Homo sapiens: one gene and its partners. The protein of the gene in region 1 purifies or fractionates together with the protein of each later gene. This does not show direct contact. Each region holds a gene or a part of one and is shown in the gene's direction. Other genes may lie near its edges. The genes, in order: CCDC32, STON2 and NUDT9.

Region 1 (3,650 bases):
TGTTAGTGCCTGTTTCTGCTTGCCCTATTGAAATCACACCTGACCAGGGACTCAGCATACTTAGAGAGAGGAAGACCTTTTCCGGCCCAAAAGAGTACCTTCCACTTTGACAACTGAGGCCAGACAATATGAAGATTGTTTTTATTGTTAAATAACCTATATCAAAGAGAATCCACTGATAACAGCAATAATTAAAAACTTAAATGTATGCTATGGATAACCCTTTTTATATCCTCAAGGAGAAAACAAACCCTGCAAATATTTAACATTTATCAACTGCAGGTTTTTTTTACATGGGTGAGCTCATGGTGGTAATAACAGGAACAAAAGGTATTTGTTTTGATCAGTGGGTGTTAGCTGATGTGACTTTTTTAGAAATGAAAACAGAACTGCAAATCATAGTTTCTATTGGTTCTAAGCTTGATGTTCACCACCCCACCATGCCATCATTAACCTATGTACTTATAGTTGAAGGCAAACTAAATTAAGGCAGACGGTAAATGGTGATGTCCTTTCTTGTATTCTTCGAAAGGGGAAATCTGTTAAACAATTAGAGTTAAAATGCAAACAAGAGTAATTTAACCTCTATCATCAAGAAGCCATATGGAGCACTGTCATGGGATTAGAAGACATTTGTTTTTATTAGACTCCAACATCTAGGCCACAAGTTGAGCAACTTTAAAAAATGTTGGGAGATTCTTTTTATTAAGAATTTAATCACACATAGAGATTTTAAAGGTCTCTTATTGAGTTCTCATCAAGTCAATTTTAATATCTAATGAACCGTTGGATCTTTCATCATTTTCTCTAATTCTTTCTCATGAGATTTGGAAACCACTTCATGTTACTGTAACAAAAAGAAAAAACCACTTACTCCTCAGAGAGATTATTTTCAAGGAGTTGAAAAAAGACAGTAGTATACACATGTCAAACCAGGGAAAACAAGCATTCCTTAGAGAGATACCTGCTGGGCTTACGTGATTTCAAAGAAAACATGCCATTGACTTATTTATGAGAACCTATGGCTTTTCCCTTTTCTCGGGTTAAACATTTATTTGATACAATGCAGGGTGAGGACTTTGTGAAGGAAAAAGGAAGAATGTTCAATTCCCTTTTATCTGTCCTTAAAAAATGACCTCTTTGGCAGGGAGTGTGGATGTCCTCATCGGTGAGAGATTTTTTAAGTTAGTATTTTGAGTTTTAGATTTAGTTAAAATTTCATGTCATGCTCATTTTCCTTGTTAAGCTCTACTTCTCTCTCTAGAGAAGAAGCTAAGAAGAATCAAAGGTTTAAATCAGGAAGTGACTTCCAAGGACATGCTTCGAACTCTGGCCCAAGCCAAGAAGGAATGCTGGGATCGGTTCCTCCAGGAGAAGTTAGCTTCAGAGTTCTTTGTGGATGGACTTGATTCTGATGAGAGGTAATCGATTCCCCGTCTAGTTCCAGCTGAAATCATCCTTTATGTAGTTGTTCTATTTGTTTTTAGCCCAGCAGTAGATTTTTAAGAACAGACTTTTTTGCCAAAAGGCAAATACTGCAGCTACGTGTTGGTCACAGATTGAATAGAGTTAAGGATAAAGCATTGTGTTCATTTTTAAGTATGCAATGAACTTGAGAAAGTAGTAACTAATCAGTCTCTCATGTTCTTGAATTCTTTCTCATGAGGTTTGGAAACCATGTTACTGTAACAAAAGGAAAAACCATTTACTCCTCAGAGAGATTATTTTCTGGAACTATCTCTTCATCTCTTCTTACCTCTGAATTTCCACTGCTTTACAGATTTTTTTTTTTTTTTTTTGAGATGGAATCTCGCTCTGTTGCCCAGGCTGGAGTGCAGTGGCACGATCTCGGCTCACTGCAATCTCTGCCTCCTGGGTTCAAGCAATTCTTGTGCCTCAGCTTCCTGAGTAGCCGGGACTACAGGCGTGTGCCACAACACCCGGCTAATTTTTGTATTTTTAGTAGAGATGGAGTTTCACCATGTTGGCCAGGCTGGTCTCAAACTTCTGACCTCAGGTGATCTGCCTGCCTCGGCCTCACAAAGTGCTGGGATTACAAGCGGGAGCCACTGCACCTGGCCTGCCTTACAGAATTTTTGTCAGATTGTAGCCACTCAATGAATTTACGCAGACTAAATTAATGAATTTATTAAGCATCCACTGTGTGATAGCACTGTGCTTGGTGTCATGGAGGGAATGGTGTAAGGAAGTTTTAAACCCATTTGTTTTTGTCCTCAAAACTACTTGAGGGCAGATGACAAATATATATAAAGACATACCTAACAATACCAGGCATTAATAAGAGAAGGGCCAGTTGAGTAGAAGTGACAGAATGTGCTTTGGGAATTGAGAGGCCACTGAGCTCCCTCCTGGCTTTGGTGTTTTGCCATAGAGGGAGGCAGGACTTGAACAGTACCTGCAAGTAGTTTAGATGCAGAAAGATAGAGAGGGCATGCTGCCCTGCCACAATGAGCAGGAATGGGGCTCGACACTCAGGAAATCGGCTCTGCCACTTACTGGTTGTATGTTCTTGGGTAAGTAACCTATGTGTGCCTCAGTTTCCTGATCTGTGAAATGGGAGCAATCAGCTCTTACCTCATAAGTTGTTATGAGGGTTAAATGAGTTACTATTTGTAAAGGGTATAGAACAATGCCTAGCACATGGTAAGCACTATAGAAGTGTTGGCTGTTACTAATATTATCCTTCCTACAGAATTTTAGAGTTTGGTAAGAAATTATTCAAAGTAAAAATCAATGGGGGGGAGTAAAAAATTGAATTTTAACAAAAGATCTTAGGGGAATGTGATTTAACTTGAGTTTCCAACATATGGACATTGGTGTTGAGAATCCCATCATATCAGAAGAAGTACTGCTGCCGAAATCAGGACAGTATGTGAATAAAACTTCATAGGTACATTTACTTGCAAATGTGTAAAATACTTTCACTTACATTATCTCAAATGCTTAATCAGCATGCCTCTAGATGCTTCAGAAATCAGCGTAGCATCTAAGGTCAGGCCAACTCTCCTCTGAGGGTTCAGGAAATTATATACATTTTGCTCTTTTCTATCTCTAAAGGTCCAACCTAATTAAGTCTTAAATTGCTCCAAACATAGGAGATTTGAAGATGCAGACTCCTGACCCACTGATAATTTGGTATTTACTTATATTCTGTCCCCCTGAATACCTCTCTTCTCTCCAGCTCTGAGAAGAAAAGACAAAACTTTCTCCTGTGTCATTTTCAAGTAGAAATCCTCTTTCTCTGAAATCAGATCAGCATGTTCCTACGTATTTATCAATATGTAAAATAATGTAGATTTCCCTTCTCTATGGAAATAATTTGAACAATTTGATGAAAAGTGTGGTAAATGAAGATTAAATGCTGTGTCACACCTGATTCCCCTGAGCTGTGAGCACTAGAGTCAATCAGCCGCTCTCATTGCCCTCTGACATTTAGATTTTTCCCCAGAGCCTACATCTGTGGGAATGTTTCTTTCTATCATTATCCAGAACAAACACCAGGAAACACTAGTTCTTCAAAGTTTATCTTTTAAACAGAGGCCATTTTACAATGGGGTTGTATAGGTCTTCACGTATGTGAGGGCCAGGTAGGTGATCCTCCTTGTGGTATGCTTTTGGCAAGGGAGTAA
Region 2 (3,650 bases), on another chromosome or scaffold:
GAGTCATGACTCTCAGTGCAGCGTGGAAGAAGTGACAGGTCCAGACAGGCTTCCCTTACTGAACACCTAACACTGAGAAGGCTCTGGGCTAAGTGTTGATGCATGTAGGGAAAAGTTACGGAACACTGGGCAGTGAATGAGCACAGAAATAATGTTCCTTCTGCTTAATATGATACATTTACTGCATACTTATTGTCTCAGTTTCTGTGCTCAGTGCCTTAGCTACTTCATATCATGTACTCCTTACAACAATTGTATGAGGAAGGTATTAATATTAATCCATATTACACATGGTGGAGGAGACTCAGCCAGAAGTGGGCTTTGGGAATTCAACCAAGATTGTGTGCTAGGAAATGGCAGGAGAGCTTCCGCACCAGGCTGACCGGCCCCAAGGTCTTGGAGCAGCCTTCGGATGCCCTGTGCTCTCCTTCCGTTTGCCTCACTCTTCCTGCTGCTGCTGCTGCTGCTGCTCTAGTATCCTCTGCTCCCTCATTACCCAGGAGGCAGTGGGGGCAAGGAATGGAAGGTAAGTGATGGGTGGGGTGCTCTTTCTCCACTTTGCTGCCCTAAAATGGCCGTGCCTTCAGGTCATGGATTATATTCATGCCATTCAGATTCTTTCACATTTTATCTTTAGCCTCAAAGATTTCCTGATTGCTCAAAACTATTTATATGACAGTCAATTTGCTCAACTCTTCACTGATTTTTCCAAAACTAATTTTGAGATTAGTCATAATTATGTTGCCCCCATCTGACTGAGGATCTTATCTTGTGACTGACAATGCTTTTGATATATTGTGAAAGCTTTACCCTTTAAGGCAGCAATTCACAGTCTGGCCCATAGACCTTGCTGTCTCCTGAGACCCTTTCAAGGCGTCTTTGGGGTTAAAATCATTTTCATTCTAATTCTAAGATGTTATTTGCCTTTTCACTGCATTGACATTTGCATTGATGGTTAAAAAATAACAGCAGATGAAACTTTTGGCCATTGTCTACTCACAGTAAAACAAAATGTATATTTCACCCAATAATATCCTTGATGAGGCAGTAAAAATTATTAATTTCTTAAAATTGTGATTCTTGAGTATGTCTTTTTAACATTCTCTGTGACAGATTGGGAAAAAATACATGAAGCACTTTTGCTCCATATCAAATTGTAATAATTGTCTTGAAAAAAAAGTTTTTAAAAAAATATTTAAGAATTCAGTTTAAAAATTAAAGTTATTTTAAAATTATTTTTTAAAATCACATAATGCAAAAAATTCTTAATGAACAAAATATCAGTACTTTAAAGACAAGATTCAATTAACACTTTCATGACTATGCTACACTTGGCCCACCTGGACCTGGTGTTGCAGGAATTTTCCTAAAGTTCAGCTAAAGATGGGGTCCTTGTCCATCCCACAGCCATGAAAATTCAGGCTCACAGATGGTTTGAAGGGTAAGTAAAGCAGGGCTTTATTGGGTGAAAAGGAAAAAAGAGGGGAAACAGGGACTCTCAGCGAGGCCAGAGTTCATCTAGAGCACTTCCGGACCGCGCCCAAATCCCAGGTTCCACACAGGAAGAGGAGGGGCCAGGCTCTTCCCTGCTGCAAGTGGCACAAACTTCCGCAGCTCCACCCCAGTGCACAGGCCAGTTGGAGTTTTTCTGGGAACCCCCTCCCCTCTGGCTGTCTCACTGGTTCTAATAAAGCTTTATTTACAGAGATAGTCAACCTGTGAGCTGTAGTTTGCTGCTTTGATTTTGAGTTGATATTTTTAACATATTGCCTTAAAATGTTACTTTGATTACTGAGTTTTTTGGCACCCTCTTAAATTTTACCTCCAAGGCAAGTGTGTCACTTGCCTTAGCCTAATCTCAGCCCTGCATTGTCCTAAGAATTTTAGATGTATTAATATTACTAGAGAATAAATCAAGAAATGACAGTGTTCAAATGCATGAAAGCATAATTTTGAAAACTGCTCAAGTATGAATAATTCCATCTGTTCATATGTGTGAAAATTTAACTCAACCCTGTGGAGATGGAGTTTTCTACCTTAGGAGGGTCCTGTAGGATGGGTTCCCAGCAGACTTGATGCCCAGTCTGTAGGCAAGAAGCAGAAATAAACCATGTGGAGGGCCAGCCCCACCTCAAGAAGTGTTTCTAACCTGGAAACCCAAGGAGCATAGGGGACGGTGCACAGCATTAGAGTGGTAAAGAAAATGGTTCAATTCCAAATTTTCTGCCAATACCCAACTTGACCCATCAATGAACCTAAACTGAATCAAAAGCTGCAGAGTACATTCCTATTACCCAAACTAACCTCTCCCACATAAGCTAATTCCCTCTTGGGTTTCCTCCCATGGATTGTGTTTAACAATAAGGATAGAGTAATTGGCAGAGCTAAGGCCAATTACACAGGAGAGACTAGGCGTTAGCCCCCCACTCCTGCCCCCACATAATGGATAATGTAGACATTCCCCAAGTTACACAGTCATTCCATTCAGGAGGCTGTTGTGCAGCTCAGATTTTAATTTGAATCCAAAATGTTTGAATGCATGTGCTGTATATTGCAATAATACCACATATGTAACTGCAGGCATTATGCAGAAATAACACAGATGTTTGCAGCAAGTAGAGACAGTGTGAGACTTGCTGCAATCACTGCTACCTGCTCTGTTCTTCCAGTAATACTAAGCTGAGTAATGGCTCCCAAAGACATTAGGTTGTCCTCCCTGGAACCTATAAATATTATCATATTTGGGAAAAGGGTCTTTGTAGATGAGAGTAAGGATTTTGAGATGGGGAGATAATTCTGGATTATCTGTGGGCCTTAACTGCAATCACATGCATCCTTATGAAAGTGGCAGAGGGCGATTTTGCTTACACAGAAGAGAAGGCACTGTGAAGATGAAACAGAAAGAAATTTGAAAATGCTGATCTTAAAGATTTTAGTGATGAAGCCACAGCCAAGGAATGCCGGCAGCCACCAGAAGCTGCAAGATACAAGAAACAGATGCTTCCTTAAAGCCTCTGCGGGGAGTGCAGTTCTGCTGACATCTTGATTTTAGCACAGTGATTCTCATCTCAGACTCTGGCTTCCAGAACTGTGAGAGAATAAATTACTGTTGTTTTGAGATACCAAGTTTGTGGTAATTTGTTACAGCAGCCATAGGAAACTAATGTACTAAGTCTGTAAAATCTTAAAATGGAACCCTTTGCATAAGGCTGAGAATGAGTCAGTCTGAATTAGGGGAGCATCTGTAAATCTGTAATGATGCAGGACTTTTTGTTTGTTTGTTTGTTTGTTTGTTTTTTGTTTTGTTTTTTGAGACGGAGTCTCGCTCTGTTGCCCAGGCTCTGGAGTGCAGTGGCGCGATCCCAGCTCACGATGCAGGGTATTTCTTAAGGAGATGTGTGCATGTCAGTGTGCTTTGTCCCTAAACCTTACAGCTCCTTATAATTTACTCATTGAGTCACCAGATATTTACTAAGCACTTCCTCTGTATAGTTCTGCTAGGTGTGGATATTCAAAGACATAGCGCAGTGCTCAGAATTGAGCAGAAATCCACTGGGCTTCTTCCTGGATCCTCTAGTAGCAAACCAGAGCCAACCTGTGCTGCTGTGATTACCATCTCTTGCGGTTGTCTTTCAACCACTACTTGTCTT
Region 3 (4,385 bases), on another chromosome or scaffold:
AAATTCGATTAATCTGGCTTTTAAGATGGTCAAAGTTTTGTAACGTCGGTGTATTGGAACCACACCACAGAAACAGCGGATCATGTAAGTAAAAGTCAAATAGTTGCCACATCAATAAGCTAATATAAATGAAGTAAGCCTGATTACAAGCTGCTTTGGACAGTCTGGGTTTCCAACTTTGTTTGTCGGTTTGTTTAATTTTTGCCTCTCAAGTTTATTATCCAGTATTATGTGTGTTGCCCTCTGTTCCTCCTCCAGCATGTGTGCCTATTTTCACAGCTTTTCTCCTCCACGAGTTTCCAAGGGCCACAACTGGTCCTAGCAAAGCCTTGTGAATGAAATCCAGCAATTGGAGCAGACAACTTGGTTAAGAAAACAAAAACAAAAAACCAAGAAACCCTTCAAGATACGAGGGCTGAGTCTCTGGACTATCTCCTCTTGCTGTAACCGCCCAAGGGGTTCACCTTTCCCGCTTCCTAGACAGAGCTGATTCATCAAGACAGGGGAATTGCAATAGAGAAAGAGTAATTCATGCAGAGCCAGCTGTGTGAGACCGGAGTTCTATTATTACTCAAATCAGTCTCCCTGAGCATTCAGGGAGCAGAGGTTTTTTCTTTTTTTTTTTGATACGTAGTTTCACTCTTGTCGCCCAGGGTGGAGTGCAGTGGTGCGACGTTGGCTCACTGCAACCTCCACCTCCCGGGTTCAAGCGATTCTCCTGCTTCATCCTCCTGAGCAGCTGGGACTACAGGCGCGTTTACCACCATGCCCAGCTAATTTTTGTATTTTTAGTAGAGACGAGGTTTCACCACGTTGGCCAGGCTGGTCTTGAACTCCTGACTGCAAGTGATCCCGCCTCGGCCTCCCAAATCAGTCATAATTTTGCAAAGGCGGTTTCATTCCCATAACGAAGTATTATTCAAAAATATGGCTAAGACCTGCGTCCTTCCGCAACAACTTACTCCCTAAAAAAACCAGAGCAGGGCCAGGCGCGTTGGCTGAGGCCTGTAACCTCAGCACTGTGGGAGGCCCAAACAGTTGGATTATTTGAGCTTGAGAGTTGGAGACCAGCCTGGGCAACATGGCAAAAATCTGTCGCTACAAAACATACAAAAATTAGCCAGGTATGGCGGTGTGTGCCTGTAGTCCCAGCTACGTCGGGGGCTGAGACAAGAGACTCGCTTAAGCCCAGGAGGTTGAGGCGGCAATGAGCTGAAATCGCGCCCCTGCACTGCAGCCTGGGCGACAGAGCCAGACTCTTGTCTCAAAAAACAAAAACCAAAAACCCAGGGCAGCAAGTCTCTCTCAAACCCCTTGGCTTCTTTCCCACTTATTCCCGTTCCAGTTCCTCGTCTGTTTCACCTTTCCTTTCCTCTGACACTTTCTTGGTAGTTCCCTGCGTCCCCAAGTAAGCCTGCGCAGACTGGGAAGTCTGGGAAGTCGGAGAAGGAAGGCGCTACCAAGCCGGCAACGCACGACCTTTGCTTTGCGGCGCGGCCGTAAAGCGCCATTACGCAGAGAGAAAGTTACGAGGTTCGTGGCCGCGGTTTCCCCAGGCAGCTGGCGCTGGAGGCTTCGGCGTCACGTGCTGGTCTGGATTTTTCTCGATGCACTGGGGAAAGCGGTGGACTCTTATCGTGGGAGGGCTCTTGATCTGTGATTTATAGATAGGCACAGCTACTCCCGTTCGGGAACCCAACGGCAGACAGGTCCTAGTGCCCATCAGATACCCGCGGCCGGGACTCGGAGCTGTGGGGTGTGGGGAGGCGGAGGCACCAACTAAGAGCGACCTAGCATCGCAAAGCCGCCCTCGGGGCGCTCATGGCGGGACGCCTCCTGGGAAAGGCTTTAGCCGCGGTGTCTCTCTCTCTGGCCTTGGCCTCTGTGACTATCAGGTCCTCGCGCTGCCGCGGCATCCAGGCGTTCAGGTATTCCACCCTCCTACTACCGGCTCCTTTGCCCTAGACCTTGAGTTGGGGGTGGGAAGCAGCTTTTTTTTCTGGCGTATTCTGTAGGCTTTGCTTTGCCTCTCGGGTTTTTATAGTCATATACAAGTTTTCAAAAAGGCTCTAAAATATTTTATCTGCCTTTTGAGGAAAACGAGTGGCAGGGACCCTTCTTGACTTCTGATTTTGAAATTTGCCATTCTCTGTAAATCATTGTTAGTATCACGAGAGAGTTTAAATAGCAATTGTTTGGGGTGGTGGTGTCCCGTGCCATTTTTTTATGGTTAATACTTAAAACATTATTATTAGTATTAATACATGTACATAGTTAAAACAACTTGAAAATGTAAAATGAAAAGTAAAATCACTATTCCCCCTGTCCCCTTTCCAGGGTGGACAATATATTATATTTACTATCTACCTCCTTTTTTTTAATAATTTGTCTATTGTGGTTAAATTTAGGGATTTATGGTGTCTTACACTGCCTCCTTCTGTTCTTCCCTTCTCCAGTTTTTATTCTTTGAGTTAGTAAACACAGGGTCCTAGGTGCAGCAGCCTTTTCTTATTTTATAGATATTAAAAGTCTTGAATCTACAAAGATGATAATTAGAAAAATCTATTTCCTAAATAATTTACTTACTGTTGGTCAATTGTTCTGTGTCTTTTTGGTCCTGTTTCCTTCTGTTGCTTTTTCTCGAACATGTGATGGGCACTGGTTATCTGTCTATATTTTGATTAATATGAGTAATAGGTCTTGTTTTCAGTACATGGGTCGCTAATTGACTTTTGGCTCTGTACCAGGTTGCCTAGATAGGAAGGTTTCAGTTGAGGGCATGTGAGCAGGTACCAGATGGGTAGACTGGGAACCTGCCTTTTGCTTCAGGCTTTGCAGTAGTGGTGGAGCAACTTCTCTGCTGAGTATAGCTGTTTATTTCCTCCGTGTGAACTGTAAAATTATTAAGCCTAAGTTTCTGCTGTGTACTCTTAACACCAGTATTCACAGTAGGGGTCCTACCCCTTCATTTCTAAAAAACTTTTGATTTTATCTTGGAGACAAACATAACTATTTTGGACTTTTTGCTTGGAGATTGGGGAGGGAGGAGGACTGAGTGATTTCCATGGTTATTGTCGCGCTGCCAGTTTATGATCCTTGGGCCCACTGACTTCAAGCTTGAAACCTCTAGCTCGGCTCAGCTTGTAGGAATAGCATTTCTCCCTAATGCGTTTTTTTTTTTTTTTTTTTTTTTGAGAAGGAGTTTCGCTCTGTCGCCCAGGCTGGAGCGCAGTGGCGCGATCTCGGCTCACTGCAACTTCCGCCTCCTGGGTTCAAGCGATTCTTCTGCCTCAGCCTCTTGAGTAGCTGAGATTACTGGCGCGCGCACGCCCGGCTAATTTTTTTTGTATTTTTAGTAGAGACAGGGTTTCACCATCTTGGTTAGGCTGATCTGGTCTTGAACTCTTGACCTCGTGATCCGCCCGTCTCGGCCTCCCAAAGTGCTGGGATTACAGGCGTGAGCCACCGCGCCCGGCCTTGGTGCATATTCTTATTTTACTTTGTCCTACTCTGGTTTGTAGGTCAATATTCCAACAACTTTTCATTTTCCTGAAGTTGGTTACCATCTGTCATTCACTGGTGGCATTTATTCCTTCTCCTGGTACGGATTTTATTTCCCTTTATCTATCTTTATCTTCTTTTAGTGGGATTTGAGGAAGGAAGGAATACACGTGTGTGCTCTCTGGAAATCTCTAATGCTCTTTTTGTTAGATGCCAGCAGAACAGTGTAAAGTTGCTTGACAGTTATTCTTCGTTTTTGTAACTCTGGGAACCCTACATGAGGCAGGTATATCCAGAACCAGAGACTGTACTGACTTGAAAGAAAAAGCCAACAGTTAACAAATGTGCCAAGTACCTGGTAACTAATGTGGCAGAATAGCTTGAACCGGGGAGGTGGAGGTTGCAGTGAGCTGAGATCATGCCACTGCATTCCATTCTGGGTGACAGAGTGATACAATGTCTCAAGAAAAACAAAAAAAGAATTTTATGGCCAGGCACAGTGGCTAACACCTGTAATCCCAGTGCTTTGGAAGGCTGAGGCAGGAGGATCGTGTGAGGCCAGGAGTTTGAGACCAGTCTAGGCAACTTAGCAAGACCCTTGTCTCTAAAAAAAAAAAACTGGGCCTGGTGGCATGCATGTGTAGTCCTCACTATCAGTAGGATCAGAGTAGGCTCAGAGACTACTAAGTGATCAGTAGGATTGCTTGAGCTCAGGAGTTGAGTTTGAGGCTGTGGTAAGCTATGATCGCATCACTGCATTCCAGCCTGAGTGGCACAGCAAGACCGTGTCCCTAGTGTTCTTTTCCTTTTTTTTTTTTTTTTTTTTGAGATGGAGTCTTGCTCTCGTTGCCAAGGCTGGAGTGCGGTGGCGTGATCTTGGCTCA

The links.
Region 2: the proteins of CCDC32 (region 1) and STON2 purify together in Homo sapiens (affinity purification with mass spectrometry; one large-scale study listed by BioGRID and IntAct). This does not show direct contact.
Region 3: the proteins of CCDC32 (region 1) and NUDT9 purify together in Homo sapiens (affinity purification with mass spectrometry; one large-scale study listed by BioGRID and IntAct). This does not show direct contact.

What each region holds. Positions count from the first base shown.
Region 1 is NC_000015.10:40,554,987-40,558,636, reverse strand, and holds part of CCDC32 (coiled-coil domain-containing protein 32), read left to right. Parts: intron 1-1,246; coding exon of another isoform or gene 1,247-1,264; coding exon 1,265-1,421; intron 1,422-3,650. UniProt on the Homo sapiens protein: Regulates clathrin-mediated endocytsois of cargos such as transferrin probably through the association and modulation of adaptor protein complex 2 (AP-2). Has a role in ciliogenesis. Required for proper cephalic and left/right axis development.
Region 2 is NC_000014.9:81,390,227-81,393,876, reverse strand, and holds part of STON2 (stonin-2), read left to right. Parts: intron 1-3,650. UniProt on the Homo sapiens protein: Adapter protein involved in endocytic machinery. Involved in the synaptic vesicle recycling. May facilitate clathrin-coated vesicle uncoating.
Region 3 is NC_000004.12:87,421,085-87,425,469, forward strand, and holds the start of NUDT9 (ADP-ribose pyrophosphatase, mitochondrial isoform a precursor), read left to right. Parts: upstream 1-1,488; 5' UTR 1,489-1,821; coding exon 1,822-1,928; intron 1,929-4,385.